2 separate regions of the Homo sapiens genome follow, and region 2 is linked to region 1. A link means that fine-mapping ties the variant in region 1 to the plasma level of a protein whose gene starts in the linked region. Region 1 holds a variant in brackets. A gene starts in the other region. All regions are shown on their reverse strands.

Region 1 (8,327 bases):
GTGGCGACCCAGGTGGGCAGCCGGGAGGCGGCTGCTCCCTCCCAGGGACCTGCTATCTGGTTACCTCCGGCCACTCTGCCGTGTTCCAGGCAGGGAGCGCCGGGCAGGAGGCCGTGGGGCCAAGCTCACCCCAGGGGGTGGGGGATTAGTCAGCCGTTCCCACCCTACCCTGAGAGGAATTGGCAGCTTTCTAGGATACCTGATCCACCCCGGGCACACTGGTGCTGGTTAGGGTGCCCTGCGGCTGTGAGGTCAGGTGGTCAGCAGAGCGCTGGAGCCGACGGGTCTTAGAGCGGGAGTTCCCGGGCTGTGCTTCCGCCTGGCCGCCAAGAGGACATGGGTCGAGGCTGGGGAGCCTCCTCTGCCCCACCTGCTCACCCCAGCAGTCAGGCTCGGAGGCAGCCCCACTGCCCAGGTGTCTGGGAGCACACAGTGGGCCAGGGTGGGCAGGCAGTTGGAGAACTGGACCTGGGGGGTCCTGGGCACCCCAGCCCTGAGACCTGTCAAAGCAACCCCCAGATGTGAGCCAACGCTGGAGCCACGGAGGCCTCACTGCCTGCCATTGGGTCAAAAATCCTGGTGCAGGGACTGGGCCGGCCTTGCCTTCTGACCTCCCAGTGCCTGCAGACGTGGCTTGAGGGCAAGAGGGACTCTGGGACTGGCCGGGCCTCCTCACAGGGCCAGGCACACAGTAGCGGGAGGGGCCGCGGCCCTCCGGCCCAGCCCAAGCCCTCCAGGCTGCCATGTGCCTGTAAGCCGTGAGGGGTGTCCTCAGCCTCCCAGGGCCATGGGCAGGCCGTGAGGGATGTGGGCTGAGACCCGGGACTCCCCTGGCTCTGCGGTGCCTGGAGCCCAGGCCTGAGCCGACGGGTGCCGGGCCTGACTGTGCTGCCACCTCGTGGCAGCTGCAGGGAGCGCGGCTGCACGCCTGAGAATGGAAGGTCGGTTCCCCAGACCCCACCCCGCCGGGCCTGGCACCTGAAAAGGAGGCTGGGGGAGGTTGGAGCAATGGGCGCGGCCGAAGTCCAGGAGGGCTGGGAAAAGCGCCCACCCAGACAGGCACATGAGGCTGGGCCCCTACGTCCACCTTGCTGATGGAGAATCCCCCTGCCGGCCCCTCAGCTACTCCACACCACGCCCAGGGTACACAGGTCCCTGAGACCCTCTCTGGCCCAGAGGGACACTGGGGCCACCTGAAGCTGTGGGAGGCCCGGGCAGGACCCTGAGCCCCAGAAAGTCACCAGGGAGCTGGTGCCTGCCACGTCACCGCCTCCACTCTGGGCGCAGCTTCCCACCCACCTGTCCCACCATCAGGCGTGGGGGGCTCCAGATGTTCCTGGGCCTTCCTGTGTGGGCCACAGGCCTGGCCAGGGCCGACCACAGCCCTCCCTGTCTTTCCCCCGCCCTGCGCTGGCCCTGTCTAGGCAGTGGGCTCCCCAGCCCCACCCGGCTCAGCCTGGGCTCCTCCAGACCCCTCTGCCCACTCCTGGGATGCCGGGTCAGTGCCGCCCACTCTACTGGTGCTGCTATGTGGCTGAGGCAGGGCCCAGCCCGAGGCCGGTGTGTCCAAGGGAATCTGCAGACTCCCTGGAGCCCTCCAAGAGGAGAACACTGGGCATCAGGAACATGGAGGCTCCGGGGAGGGGTGGCGGTGGTCAGAGAGGACTAAGAGAGTGACAAGCTTCCAGGGCCCAGCCCACCCTCTGCAGAGCATCCAGCAGACGCTCCGTGGGGTTGCCGACCTCCCGCTTGCCTGCAGATACACTCAGGAGTGTGCACAGCCCAAGCTCAGCCCCAGTAACGGCGAGTCTAGGAGCTGCACAGAGCTGGAACCCCCCATCCCAGAACGCCTCCATCACCAGGGGCAGCCCTCCCATGTCAGAGGCCCTTGCCTGGGCCATGAGGTGCCCTGGATGCCTGGGCTGGTCCCATTCCCTGCTGACTCCCTCCCTCACGCATTCATTCATCACTCATTCACTCATTCACTCACTCATTCACTTATTCACTCACTCATTCACTCGCTCATTCACTCATTCACTCACTCATTCACTCATTCACTTATTCACTCATTCACTCATTCTCTCACTCATTCGCTCATTCACTTACCCATTCGCTCACTCACTCATTCACTTGTTCATTCACCCACTCATTTACTCATTCATTTATTCACTCACTCATTTGCTCACTCATTCACTCATTCACTCATTCACTTGTTCATTCACCCACTCATTTACTCATTCATTTATTCACTCACTTGCTCACTCATTCACTCATTCATTCACTCATTCACTCAATCTCTCACTCACATACTTATTCACTCACATGCACTCATTCACTCACACATTCACTTATTCACTCACTCATGCACTCACTTATTCACTCACATGCACTCATTCACTCACACATTCACTTATTCATTCACTCATGCATTCACTTATTCACTCACTCATTCACTTATTTGCTCACTCATTCACTCATTCATTCACTCATTCACTCAGTCACTCACTTATTCACTCACATTCATTCACTCACATTCACTCACTCACATGCACTCACTCACACATTCACTTATTCATTCACTCACTCATGCACTCACTTATTCACTCACCCATTTATTCACTCATTCATTCTCTCACTCTCATTCACTCACTCTCTGTGTTCTGAACAGATGCATCCTGGACTCTAGACTGCAGCCAAGCCCTCAAAGACCTCTGCAGGGTGGTGGTCTCTTCTTGGGGCAGATCCAAGCTCTGGCCTCTCCTCTCTGAGCAGAGAGACACTGTCCCAGCCAGCCCACAGAAGCAGCAGGGCTGCCCAGTACTGGGTGGCTGGCCTGAGGTGTGCACCCCACAGGGCCCGGGTTTGCCCCCACCCTATTCCTGGATTTTATGAACAATCTCAAAAAATGCACAGTCCACAAATTGCAAAATGCTCAAGTGTATTTATGCAACAGATTGGCCGTGTACTGAGGAGGGGAGCGCAGGCTGAGGGCTGAGGTAGGAGTGAGGTTCTTCCTCCTGCAGCCACCAGGCAGCTGATCACCATGTCCAAGCGTCATTCCTGAGACCCTCAGGTGATGCTCACGTCCCCAGAACAGCAGGCTGGATGCATGGCCAGAGGAGCTCGGCCAGCCCCGGGGCTGGTCCTGAGAGGTGGCTGCAGGCGGGGTGGGTAAGGGCCCCTCCTCCAGGCAGCAGGTGACCCATAGCCCACACCCTCCACAAGAAAGCGGGCGTGGACAGTGTGTTCAAAGCTGCAGCCGCCTGGACAGGGGCACAAGTTCCACTGGCCTTGGAAGCCGAGCTCAGAGGACATATGGGAGGTTCTCCTTGGAGGTCAGGAGGGCGGCAGTGCTGGTCAGTGCATGGGGGACACTGGGACGCCTCTCTCCCAGCTCCCACTCTCTGCCTCCTGGCTGGGCTCGGGTTCCGCCTCCTCCGAGTGCTGGGTGTCGCCCGGCGCAGGGCACCGCCGGCCCATGCAGCCGCACTCTTCCACCTCGGTGTAGCTGAAGGCCCGGCTGGAGCCGTCGGTGCAGTGCAGGGTCACATTCCTCAGCGAGGTCCGCAGCTCCTGGCAGCACTGGCACCTGTGCTCCACCGTGTTGCCCTCGAGCGAGTACCTGTGGGCAGGGGCTGCTCAGCACCAGCTGCTGCGCCACCCCAGCCTCCTGCCGTAAGCCGGCGCCGTGCCGAGCTCTGGGCGGCCTCATCGTGTTCCCTGCTCCTGGAGGCATGCTGCCAGTGTCTGACAACCAGCTCTCCTTTGCCAGTTCCCCAGGCGCCAACAGTCCCACCAGGGCCGACCCCGGCTCCGTGCTGATGGGAGGGAGGGAGACTCGGGGCGGCTGCGGCAAGTTCCTGGCGGAGCTCAGTAAACAGGAGAGCGTGATGCCGACACAGGCTCTGGGGATGTAGTTACCCCAGCCCCACCCTTGCCATCTCAGGACCCCTTTCCCGCCTCACCCTCAGAGCCCTTTGCCTGGCCCCTCATGGTCCTGCCCCTCGTCTATCTGGCACCT[A/G]GAGCCCTGGGGGCCCTGACTGCACCCCACAGCCAATCGCGTCTCCCTGCCTGCTGCCCAGGCACGTACATGGAAGAGCTGTCCCCACAGTTCCCCCGGCAGTAAGCCAGGCGCACGGGCTCCGAGGAGCTGCAGCCCTGCTGCTGGATGATCAGGCTCCTATGGTACACAGCACAGGTCGACTCTGGAGAGGAACACAGGGTTTAGGACCAGCCCAGCTGCTCCTAGACCTCTGAGGGTGGAGCCCGCCCCGCCCAGCAGGCTGGGTACTCACGGTTCTGGTACGGGGGCGGGGGCGGCGGGCAGAAGCGGCAGCAGCCGTCCTTGCTCATGCGGGCCTCGTCCTGTGCCGACAGAGGGGCGCCCTCAGTGCCGAGGCGCTCGGCGGCCCCCACAGAAGTGAGGGATGGGGACATGGGGCCAGGCTCAGGAGTGGACAGCCCCAAGCAGGAGGGGGTGTCTGCTGGCGCTGCAGGGATGATCACAGCCCCCCAAACCCATCTAGGGGTGAAGCCCCCCTTGGCTGGAGCGGGGATCCTGGACCTCACCAGAGAACAGCTGAGCGGGGGGCACGCCTTCTTCGTGGTGACCACCACGAGCCCATCCTGGTGCTTCTCACACTGGTGGGTCACACAGTGGTTCCCTGCGTCTGACCAGGTCTCGCCGGGCTGGAGGGAGGCCAGGCCCCGGGGTGAGTGACCCTCCCTCCGTCTGTCCCTCTGTCTGCACCCCAGCCCGTGGGCTTCCAGAGAGTCCCCAGCCTCTGCCAGACGCATGCCTGGCAACGACAGGTCCCCACATGCCCCAGTGCTCCCAGACCCTGCCCTTCCTCTTTGTGGCAGCCACTACTCACGTAGAAGAGGTGGGCGGGGCTCTTGCTGGTGTTGGTGACACAGGCGACCTGCACACAGGTGCCACAGCACTGCCCGCTCTGCTCCTGGTACTCGAAGCCCTGCGGGAGGGATGGACATGTGGCTGGAATCCAGGCGACCGCTGCCCCCCAAGAGCCAGGGCAGGGTCGGGGCAGGGTGGGAGCGCTCACCACAGGGCAGTGTGTGTTGCAGATCTGGGTCTCACAGCTGACCACAAACGCGTCCGATGGGGGGCCACCCGGCAGCTCACACCTGCAGGTTTCGCACAGGCTCGAGGAGACCACGGCGCCGGGCTGGGGAGAGCCAGGGCAGCAGACACTCATGAGCTTGGGCCCTGGGGAGACCCGCCCCTGCCTCCCCACTGGCTTGCTGCCCCCAACTTCCCAGACATCCCCCTCCAGGCCGCTTCCTACCAGGCCGAGTTGCACCCCTGGGGTGACTCGTGGTGGCACCTCTTGGTGCAGAGGCCACAGCCCAGGGTCCCCATCCCTAGAGCAGAGCCCCACGCTGCACCCCCTTGGATGGGGTGCCCAACAAGGCCACACACTCTGCAGGGCCACATACTCAGCCGGCTCAGGACAGAGCCGTGGGATCCAGGCCTGGCTGTGCTGTGGTGCCAGGAGAGGCAAAGTCCCCCGGAGCCCCCCGGAGCCAGGCAGGCCAGGGTGTAGATGTCCATATTTCCGGGACCTGGGGCCGACCTCGGGCCTCAGCCACACTTGATAGTGGGCTGTGTCTGCAGAGACTCGAGTCCCTGGCCTCGGCCGGAGTTGGCAGTTGCTCCAAAGTCTACCTGGGCCTCAGGGTCAGTGGGAAGCTCCGTCCCTATGGCTGAGGGGGTCTGAGCTCCGTGGCTCTTACCTGGTACAGGGTCCCGTTGATGCTGCACACTGTCCAGCCTGCCCACGAGAAGACAAGCAGCTGCACCCCCCGCCGCCCACTCTCCCCTCACCCTCAGCATTCCCGCCCCTGCAGCCTCCTGGGCGCCTCATTCCCGGGCTCGCCACTGGGGTTTGTCCAGCCTCATCTCTGCGGAAGGCTCAGTCCAGAGCCACAGACCCGCAGTGGACAAGCCGCACTGGCATCTGGTTATGGCCCCCCAAAATCCCAGGTGGAGACCCCAGCCCACGGCCCCTGACAGGGCCTGGTCCAGGCCACTCACTGCAGTTTTGGACTGGGCAGCAGGCCCCCTCCTGGTAGGTCGGGATCGCGCGGGCGCCCTCAGGACAGCCCACGGGCGCGGGGCAGCGGCTGGTGTTGCAGGCTGCGGGGGCGGGAGTGAGGCAATTAGGAGTCTGTCCCCCGCCCCCACCCGAAGGCCCACCCCCTGGGGTCTCTAGGATTGCGGACCGCCTAGACAGCCCGCTCGGGGGTCTCCAGATGAGGCTGTTGCGGAAGCGGAGGAGGGGACGCCCTCGTAGGCACTGTCCCCAGGTGCACGCCCCAAGGCAGCAGCAAAGTCCGGGCCGAGTGGGCTCCGGGTCACCTGCCTGCCACACCATGCCCCTCACCCAGCAAAGGGCTTACCGCAGCTGTACTGGGGGCAGCACTGGCCGGCCTGTGGGGCTGCAGGCACAGGCACGAAGCCGGGCAGGGGGCAGGCAGGGGGCAGCGGGCAGAGCTTGGGTCGGCAGGTCAGCGTCCACGTGGCCGCCTCACACGTGCACTCCTGGCAGTCCATGCCGACGGTGTGGCCCACCTGCAAGGAAGGGGACTGAGGTCCAGCGTCCGCAGCGGCTCCACCCAGGGGTGCAGCAGCCACCCCGGCTCATGCAGTGCCGGGGCAGCCAGGTGTGGAGGCCGTGTGGCCTGCACTGAGGACCCAGCAGGAGTAGGGCTTCAAAAGTGCAGGGTAGGGCCCAGGGATGGGCACAAAGCTCTGCAAGGTGGGCAGGCTGTGGGGTGACTGGCCTGCGCCCCCCACCTCACACCTCCACAGTCTTGGCTGGGCAGAAGGGGCGTCCCAAGGAAGGGAAGAGCACAGCCAGCCTCGGGGCCAGCACCCACCCACAGAGCAACACCAGGACAGACGCCCCGGCACCGTCCCCAATACGGACAGAGTGGGTACCTGGGAAGGGAGATCCCGAGTCTTTCTGGGAGCCCGGCTCCTCCCGCAGCCCTTTCTCTGGGCCTCTGACACAGAGAGGACACCCCGACCCCTGAGCCCCACCTGACCATTTCTGGGGCCGGTGTTTCAAGAGCCTCCCTCCTCGGGCTCTTGGACCCCAGTGCCCTCTTGGGCCATGCCTTCCACTCACCTTCACCGGCTCTCCGTGGGGCCCCAGACACCCTGGAAGGAGAGAGATCTGAGGTTACTGGGGGTCAGCCACCACAATAGGGGCGAGAGGCAGGGTCCCATATTGGGGCCAGGGTAGACCCCAGGACCTGGCCAACAGTCACAGGCCCAGTCCTGCCACACCCCCCAGCCCCGGCCTGGGGCACGTACTGGGGCAGCCCGTGGGCACGCAGACTTGGGCACTGGTGCTGAAGAGGGTCATGCCCTCCGGACAGAAGCAGCCTTCGGTGATGGGGCCGGCCTCCGGCAGAGCCCTGTAGAGAGCATAGGGTTGGTGGGTCTCCTTTTTCCCTCCGGTGAGAAGGACCCCAGCCTGGGAGTGGGAGATGCAGCGGGAGGCTGGGGACTGGGTGGCTCCAGCAGCCCATGGCAGGGCCAGGAGGGAGGGTGCCTACCCGAGGCTGGCGCTGTCATTCCCGTAGCAGTAGGAGGGGTTGCTCGGGCCGCAGGGCTGGTACACCTTGTCGGCTGGGCAGGTGAATGCTGTGGGGAGGGGAAGCCACACCTGAGAGGGTGGGAGGGCACCCACCCAGAGCAACGCGGGCCGCTGGGCACCAACATCTGCTCCGGAGCTGCCCGCAGCCACCTGTGGGCCTGGGCCTGGCTACGGCCTCCCACACCCCAGTGCCCCGCCACGGGCTCCCAGACGTGGACGCCCTCCCTTCTCTCCAGGGAACTGGGTGCACTCTGCCCTGGGGCTGCCCCCTCCTCCTCCAGGTCCCCCCCTGACTGCCCGAGCCCACCCTGTTGGTCCGTCCGGCGTGCCTGTGCCCCTCACAAGCGACTTGGGACCCTGAGGACAGTGGTGGCACTCACGGCACATGTGGCCGGTCCGGCCTCTCCAATCGATGCAGATGTCGTGGGACGCACAGAGTGCCGCGTACAGCTCCAGGCTGGAGCACACCACATCCAGGTCCGTCATGTGGCACCGGTCAAAGACGCAGCCCTCATAGAACAGCAGTGGGGGGATCACAGTGTGGCACGGCTCAAAGACCCTGTGGGAGGGATGGGCAGGGTGCTGGGTGCAGCCTCTCCGGCCACCTGCCTGCTCCACGTCAGGCTCCCAGGCTTCAGGGCAGTCTCCAGGCGAGGCGAGTCCCAGAGCAGCCACTGGTGTGTGGCCGCCCTCCTGTATCCC
Region 2 (8,327 bases), not on the chromosome of region 1:
TGTAATTAGAATTTATTTTTAATTTCTTTATGGTTAACATGCACATTTTTTGTTAAAAAGAAATCGTATTTTTAAACAATAAAGTGAAAATTGCACGTTGACTACCTACATTTCCATAATCCCAGATGGAATTCCAGGAGTCCCATCCGTTGTTATTGTCAACATTGGCCACATTGTGTTCATTGTTGACACTCACTGACTGCTGCCCACTTCCAGCATTGTTGTTGTCATCATTGACGTTGATATTCTGAAGTTTATAAGAGATTGAGAGTGATTTAATATCACATTTCCTTGCAAATGCATTTTGGTAGCAAACTTGAAAAGGTGAGACTTACATAGTTAGCTAGGGCAGGAGCTAGAAAGACTCCAAGAAGTCCAGCAAAGACAATCTGAAATCACAAATAACATTGGTCTCCTGTTACATGGCAAAATGATGTCTTCTTTCTTCCTCTATCCAAGCTTATGAAAAGTATTCACTAATTTTACCAATGTGTTCAGTTCTAGTTCAATGTGTTTTTTTCTTCTCTTACCTTGCATTTTTTAACCATAAAGGTTTTAACGATAATGTGAAATTGCTGATTAATTATAAGTAATTATATTAATGTGATATATAGTTTTAGAATTTTTAGTGTAGGCCTTATGAAACGCTGGAAAAATTGATGAAGAAGGGAAGTTGAGAGCCAGGAAAGCTGCTTTCATCTCATTGCCATCCAGTACTGAGGAAGAAAATGTAATTTTCAAGTAGTGATAAATCAAATTATTGAATCAAATCCCTTTTAAAGTAAAACCCAGAATGTACCATCTTGTTTCTCTTCAGTTTAATAAGTGGTATCATAAAGATGACTTTGCTAAGATAATACTTCTGGAAATGTCAGAATAGAGTTTAAAAATTTTTAAGATTGGTCAAAATATTAACTTTATAATAAAACATATACTTGGCAAATGAATTTCCTATAAATTATCATTGGTCAGAATGCTGTTTTGTTGAATTATATTATGTAATATAAACCATAGGTGTTATTAGAAAGTAGAGAACTGCCTTTCTTATTTAGAGCTTTCAAGGACTTGCTATAAATGATTATTTTTAAAATGCTTTATAAATCTTCATGATTTTTCTATTTTGGATAAACTCAGCTATAGTTAATGACAGCATCCTACCTTGAGTAGATATTTGGATTATTTAAATCTAGTAAAAGAAGAAAGTTATACTTCTTCGAGTATTAAGAGATAGGAGTAAAGATTCACTTTTAAGTTATTGAAAATATGTGTATCCTCCTAAATATTAACAAAAATGATTTGGGATAACTGACATGGCTTGGTTATTCAGCTTAAATTTGTACTGTGGCTTATGTTACACAGGTTGTTGATGCTCACCTCTCACTCACTTGTTTCTAATTGTTTTATAAGGTTTAAAATTCTCTCTTTAGAGAAATTCAGAAAATTCACCTGGCACATATTTTGACCTCCTAGGTAACATATTTGTACCAGTATTGAATTTTGGTCAGTGCCCCAATATAAGAAAGTTACTGTTTTAAAATAAAGCAAACTATCTTATTTTCCTTGGAAAAAAAAAGAAGTTTTACAATAAATAGCATAGTATAAATGAATACTATGGTTTGAGATGGCTATAAGTGCTAAAAATCACATCTGAAAATGATTTCAGTTAATTTTCCTATTTAACATGGGATGTTTTCTTCCTAATAGAAATAATCTTTTTATTAAAAAAAACTTTCCAAAGCAATGGATTAGTAGGCAGTTTGGATGCCAATGATGAGAAAGCAAGTATAGAGTGTCTCGCTGGCAAGAGTGATCAGCAGAGGCGATGTCACTAGCAGTGTCCCAGGATACTTGGTTTAATTATTTATCACAGGGTCCCTGACATTGGTTTTCAGAGCACAGAGCTTTATGCAGGGTGCCTCATTCTGGGTACCTAGTCTCATTTCCTTTGCCTGGGACAAAATAGTTTTGAGAACTGCTCTAGAGATTCAAGGTAACTTTTGAAAAAAAATTAAATTTTTCTCCCAATAGCTTAAAAAGGAGTTAAAAATTAGTCTCCTAAAAAGTCAGAGGTAGAAGAAATTTTAGAGAACACCTAGTACAATGCAATCATTTTACAGATAAGGTAACTGAGCTTCAGGGGTTAAGTGAGTTGGCCAAACTTATACCTCTTGTTCACAGCAGAACTAGGAGAGAAATCAAATCTAACCTGTGTCTGGAGCTCCCTCTGACCCTTTTAAACTTTGCTGCTATTAAGAGGACCTAGTTCTAGGTAGTCATTTTACATTTGCAGCCCCATTATAAAGTAGAGTCTGCCGTAACGTTTTCCAGTGTGTAGTATGTTGAAACATGAAAATAGTCATCTGATTCTAGCCCCTTTGCATCGTGTTGTGAGAAACCCGGCACTACTAGTTACTTTGGCAGGGTTTCTCGGTCCACCTCCTCCTAGACTCTCAGGCTTCTGTCTGGAACCACAGGAGAGATGCTGTGGTAGCTTCATGTTTCAGATGCTTTCTTAAATAAATGGCCATGCTAGAGCCCAAGGCAAATCTTTCTTTCTTGGAGACCCATTTTACTGTAACAAATGTGACAAGAAGTCTATCTCAGCCACTTATTTTGATAATAAGCTTTTCATCTTTCCTGAACATGCTCAGGAATTTTGGTAAATAAAAGGAGGAATTCAAGAATGAGGGATGATCGGCACTTTCTAGGGCTTAGGAACTGCTTACCCTGCATGGAGACCGGAATCAGGTGATGCGGAAAGTCATTTTGTTAAAAATAGGTCAGTGTGAGGTGCTCAGACAGCTGTCTAATCTCAGCACAATTATCCTTCTCTATAGAGATGCTTATAAATGCCATGATTATATAAATAGAAAAAAGATTTTTTTTCATTATTTCTTCTTCTAAAAAAAAGGGATACATGTGCAGAACGTGCAGGTTTGTTACATAGGTATATGTGTGCCATGGTGGTTTGCTGCCCCTATTGACCTGTCCTCTAAGTTCCCTCCCCTCACTCTCCACCCCCCAACAGGACCTAGTGTGTGTTGTTCCCCTCTCTGTGTCCATGTGTTTGAAGAGAGAATTTTTTTAAAACAAATTTTCCATGATGGGGCCATAAGAAGCAGACCTCCTAAATCTCAGAATATTGACAGTCTCCAATCATTTGGTGGTAAATTCAAAAGGAAAAATCTACTCACTGTGAACTTCATCTTGTCTTCACGAAAGCAGTGGACAGAGGAGTAGGCAAGCATGGACCTGAATGAGAAGCCTTCTCATATTTGTACTTAACCAGGTTGACTCAAACTAGGTGTTATCAGGTGGGGTCAAAGACTTACCTTCCTCAATTTCTCCTATCTGTGCCATGAGCCAGTGTACCAGGAAACCTTTCAGAATATCTGCATGCTTAGCAAGGAACTTTCACATGGAGTTGACCTGACTCATCACTTGTTGAAGCTGAAGGTATCACAACAAACTCAATATGATTTATGATAACTTCTCACCCAGTCAAAGCTGTGGGCGTGAGTATTTTACACGCTAACATTGCTCAGATTCAGAAAAAGAATAATCCCTAAAATCAAACAAAATCACAGCTGAAAAGCCACGTGTATACTAGGCCTTCCAGATAGCAGCTCCTATAGGAATGTAGGAATGGTTTCCACTTCTTAACTTTTATCTGAGCCCATGGCAATGGTTTTGCTTAGACTAAACATGTTTTGTGAGCAACTCCCACCAAACCTACCCCTTTTCTGCAATGTTGAGCTCACTTAATGATAGCACCATATATCTGGTACAGCCCTTTCTTCTCAGTCTGACATCTACTTAGTTACTGTCATTTTATCTCTGAAATGCCTCTCAACTCTGACCTTGCCCACAGCTCCCCTCACCTGGACTTTCACAACAGTCATGCAATTGATCACTCTGGTCACCAGTTTCTTATATTCCAATGCATTTTCTTCATTAACCCTGAGGTTGTCTTTCTGAAGTGCATAGATAGACATGACTCTATCACGCTTGGAAATTTCGCTGGCAGCCTACAGAAAATTCAAAGTCATTGGAATGGCATCCAGGGTCCTATGTAATAAGATTTCCAAAGGCTTCCCGTCTGCCACTTTATGCTATGTACCTACATTCTAGCTCCACCAGCGTTCCCACCATTCCTGGAAAAGTCAAGATGTGTATGTCTCCATGCCTTTGTACATGCTGTTGTTTTATCTTGGAGGGCCACCCGCTAGCCTCTCGCTTGGTAGACTCCTGTTCATTGTTCAAGGCTCAGCTCAAATATCACTGCCTCCATCACATCTCCCCCATCTGATAGATAGAACTTTCCTAGTGTTTGTTTTTTCCTTCTGGGAACTATAAAAGCAATATCTTTTTATTTGCTTCTAGATAATTTAGTTTTCAGAAGTTACATTAAAATAATAAAAAATATTTTCATCAAAAGCAGAGAGTAGAAACTATCAATTGGGCAGACAAGTAAAAGCTCAAAACAGGTTTGGAGGTGAGTTGGTTTTAATTTTTTTCCTGCTTTTTCCTATACAGTGAAGCTAGTAAATTAAATTTGCCAAGGAGGAAAACTGTATTTCATTAACTACCAATCTATAAATTTTCCCTTTGGAAACTTCGTGCCCACAATTTTCCTCCTGTGCATGGATTGAAACCATAAGATGGGATCACATGGTTATAAAGCTTGATTCGCTATCAACATCTCTTCAAAACTGTTGGTAGGAGTGGATTAGAACAGCTGCAGTATTACTGGATATTTTTTAATGTGTCCACTGATTTCTTTCAAACTCACTCTTTATCCACAGAAGGTAATAAGCCTGGAGTAAGGGGCAGACATGTGTGAAGAGGCCTTCATCTGCTTTAGGAAACTTCATGTCACTGAGAAGTCAATGAGTGGGTAGCATGGTCTCTACGTTTAAACTCAGCCACCAGTAGTCATCTTGGTACACAGGTGCAGTGCCCAGCACACATTTTGCATGTCATACCAAGGACAAGGGCCTGAAGTTCTGCAGTGGACCTGTGAAATGCTGGTCTGGAAGATGTTCCATGACAGACAGACAGACAGATAGATAGATAGATAGATAGATAGATAGATAGATAGATACATACATACATACATACATACATACATACACACGTATACACACATAGATACACACACATACATAGATACATAGGTAGAGTTCCGGGTCCAATAATCCCCCCTTTAGAGACTGACAATTCACATTCACACATCAAATGGGCTAAGAAATTTATAGGGGAAAAATCTCTGTTTCATCCAGGTTCTTCTCATCTTAGTTGACTACAGAACCTGATCGTTTTCCCTTTTTCTTTTATTTATTTGTCCTAACATCTCATAACAACTCTGGGGACCCCTGCCTTAGTGAAAAAATTGTGCCACCTCTGAGGATGCACCCTGGATTTGAAAACCCATTTGGGGAGCTACTGGATGAAGCTGGGAGCCAGGAGACCTAGATTCTATTTTCCCATCTTTCAATGAGTCATTTATTTTTTTGGTTTAGGCCTTAGGTTTCTTGTGGGTAAAAGAGAAGAAATTCCTCCTTTATACAATATTTGTTACTTCAATGGCTCTACAACCAGAAAAACTTCTTTTTCTGTACTTTGTGTGGTGTGGGAGGTTGGGGGAGAGGGAGTGTGGGGGTCAAGGTGGGGGTCAACCCTCACCTCAATCCTGGTCTCATCCAAGGCCAAAAGTCCTAATGAAGCATGAGCAAGACTTTTGCCCTGAGAACTGTGTTTTATGTTTCATTCTTCCCTTGAAGAAGAATGTCTTCCCAGGAAGACAGAACATACCAATGTTTTTGGTCACCTCCATAGAATCTAAAATATGCAGACACATATATGGTGCTCAGTAGGCCCCTTGTAAAAATTTTACTTGCGTAAAGGAGATGTTAAGCTACAGGATAAAAAGTGCGTTATATTTAGTCATTTCTGGTTTTGGTGCCAGCCTGAGAGGGGCTGCCCTACACTGGCTGTGATGACACATTGAGGGAGTCTCAGTTGATGGTGTGACCTCTGTGGCTTGGGGTTAGTGTGGAACAAATCAGCCCATGGGTAAATAGAGCCTGCCCTGCCTACAGAGATTGATGCTGGGCCATGCCAAGAAACAAGCCCCTATCGTCATTTTATCTCACAATGCACACACACCCAAGGCTTCATTCTACTCCACACCCTGTGTTGTGCTCAGTGGAAACTCCCTCCGTGTGGAGCAGACGGGATGCATCCCATGTGCAATATGCTCCTGTGTGCAACTGGAGGGAGGCCTGCAAAGGACTAAACTGCTCATTTAAAGATGTCAATCAGATCCCAAATGGTTGGAACCAAAGTGCTTTCCCACAGAAATCAGACTTTTCACATTCCTTCTTGTTCTCTGAGTGGAAGGGAATGTTTGCCTATAGGGTACATTTTAATCATTAAATATTCTCATTCAAGATTCCGTCTCTGCACAGACCTGTTAATGGGCTGACCTAGAGGTTATTAATACCTATGAAGCCCTTAGTAACCTTGGCTTCCTTTTCATTCTTGCTCTCCATTTTCTGATAGTTAGGACTCAACTGGCCTTAGTCCATTTGCCTGCAAATGATAATTTATTTGTTTGAGTGTGGAAGTCCCTTCATGCAGACTCTATTTCAGTCTCCTTGCCTTTACTTTTGTCTTTCTGAGCAAACTGCACACCAGTCTGATGGTCCTTTTGATGGTCCCCAGTCAAGTGGTTCATTATGAGGTCTGAATACACTTCGCTGTGGAGAAATTTCTGCCCCTCTCTGGTCTTGATTTCCCAGCCTGTAGCTAAGACTCTCATGATGGTTCCGGTGACTACAGCCTTGGTGCTTGCAGCAGTGACACACCCTTATCAAAGCCTCCATATGTACTTATGGCTAGGAATGACACGTCTAAAAAATAGCGATAGAAACATGTAAAATAACGTTTTAATAGTTATTGCTAGAGGAGCTTCAAGTTCCAGAAAATCCAAACTTAATACATAATTATTTTTATATAGGGGAGAAATTCTTTTCGAGTTACAGCAGAGTGGAGGGAGCACTTTGCATTACTGAGCAGATATTTTTGTTGTTTCCTCTGGGACCGTTGCCTTCCAAAATACATATAACTCTGGCTTTCTCTGGCTGTTTGTATGTCTGTTCAATTGCGTTTGCCAAAACTTCTGGATCCCCTCAGAGGCAGGCAGTGATATATTATGCCTAAGATTAGTTGTTACCTTGAGTGATAGAGTAATATAAATGGGGTTTGGAAAAATCTTGCAAAAAGAAGATCTCCTGAGTAATTGCATCATGTGTATGAAATATATGAAAGTAGAGGTAAAGACAACGCTGACCAATAACTTCATGTTTATCATCGTGAAGGACAATCAAGCCTGGTTAAACAATTCGTTCTGAAAAAGATTTAAAGAAAGTATGCCCATATGAGGAATAGAAATCATAAAGTGATAGCAACATGTTGCTTTATAATTATGTCCTGGCTAATCCAGAAATAATAACACTATACTTTGTTCAGTGTTCAAATTGAAGCGGTTTAGAGATAATGTTGTAAAAGCACTCATACTGATGGTGTGTTAATTAAATAACAGCAGTCAGGCTGGGAAATGACTAAACTGCTTATTAAAAGATGAGAATAAGATCCCAAATGGTTGGAACCAAAGTGCTAGCGCTGGCAGAGCGGTGCCTAGAGCCAGGGCCTTGCGAGGACCCCAGGCCACCACACCATGGCTTCCCTGGCAGAAGAGGCCAAAGTAAAGGACTTGCCCTAAGGCCAGTGAACAATGAAGCACAGTTTTGTAAATCATCGAGTTTTCTGTAGGGTGACCGGTCAGAATTGGTTTCCTTTTCTATGTCTTACATAGAACACAATACACACATATGCAATCTTTTCACTTCTGAAAGAACACATCTTCAGATGGTGACATTGGATCCTCAAGGGTGCCTCAGAGAATTTTGAGTTTCCATGTTTATTCAATTATGCTCTCTCCCTACCTACATTCCTAGTCTGTAATTCCTGGAAATGCTTAATAAAACGTATCCATCAGGATTCATTCTGGAGTGTGCTTTTCCTTCAGAGGTCCCACTGGATTTGAATAAAAACCTCTCATCCATGCCAGGAAAGTTCTATCATTTGCTTGCTCAGAAATGGGTCACTGGGCCTACAACCCCCTACTCATTTTCTCTTATTGAAAAATAGCCCATTAATAGCAATGCATCATGCTGCAGCTAATGCCATGCCCCAATTAAGCACAAGTGCTACAGAAGATTTAAAGATGTAAAACAAACAATGCTCACACTCCAAGATCCTGA

Which allele goes with the higher level. Positions count from the first base shown, and alleles are read on the strand shown. Strength reflects both the effect of a copy and how common the allele is.
For the plasma level of the protein whose gene starts at base 3,248 in region 2, A is the low allele of the variant in region 1 and G is the other (strong association).

The links. PIP is the posterior inclusion probability: the model's chance that the variant is causal. The UK Biobank Pharma Proteomics Project read protein levels with antibody pairs (Olink). The fine-mapping took linkage between variants from a reference panel, not from the people measured, so its PIPs are less certain.
Region 2: it holds the start of GKN1, and the variant in region 1 is fine-mapped to the plasma level of the GKN1 protein (UK Biobank, PIP above 0.99).

What each region holds. Positions count from the first base shown.
Region 1 is chr11:1,195,733-1,204,059 of GRCh38, reverse strand. MUC5AC (mucin 5AC, oligomeric mucus/gel-forming) reads right to left here. Exons shown (of 49, transcript NM_001304359.2): 37 at 8,006-8,184; 38 at 7,585-7,672; 39 at 7,340-7,443; 40 at 7,152-7,183; 41 at 6,421-6,592; 42 at 6,056-6,157; 43 at 5,755-5,792; 44 at 5,064-5,186; 45 at 4,875-4,973; 46 at 4,570-4,689; 47 at 4,296-4,365; 48 at 4,091-4,205; 49 at 2,922-3,622. The coding sequence ends at 3,358. Among named protein-coding and RNA genes, the nearest start is that of MUC5B, 23 kb to the left of the region's middle. RefSeq lists enhancers at 619-1,125, 1,126-1,633. The variant A/G (reference allele first, on the strand shown) is at 4,022.
Region 2 is chr2:68,969,557-68,977,883 of GRCh38, reverse strand. It overlaps GKN1 (gastrokine 1), which reads right to left and starts at 3,248. Exons shown (of 6, transcript NM_019617.4): 1 at 3,195-3,248; 2 at 336-389; 3 at 110-247. The coding sequence starts at 3,206. RefSeq lists a silencer at 5,526-5,758.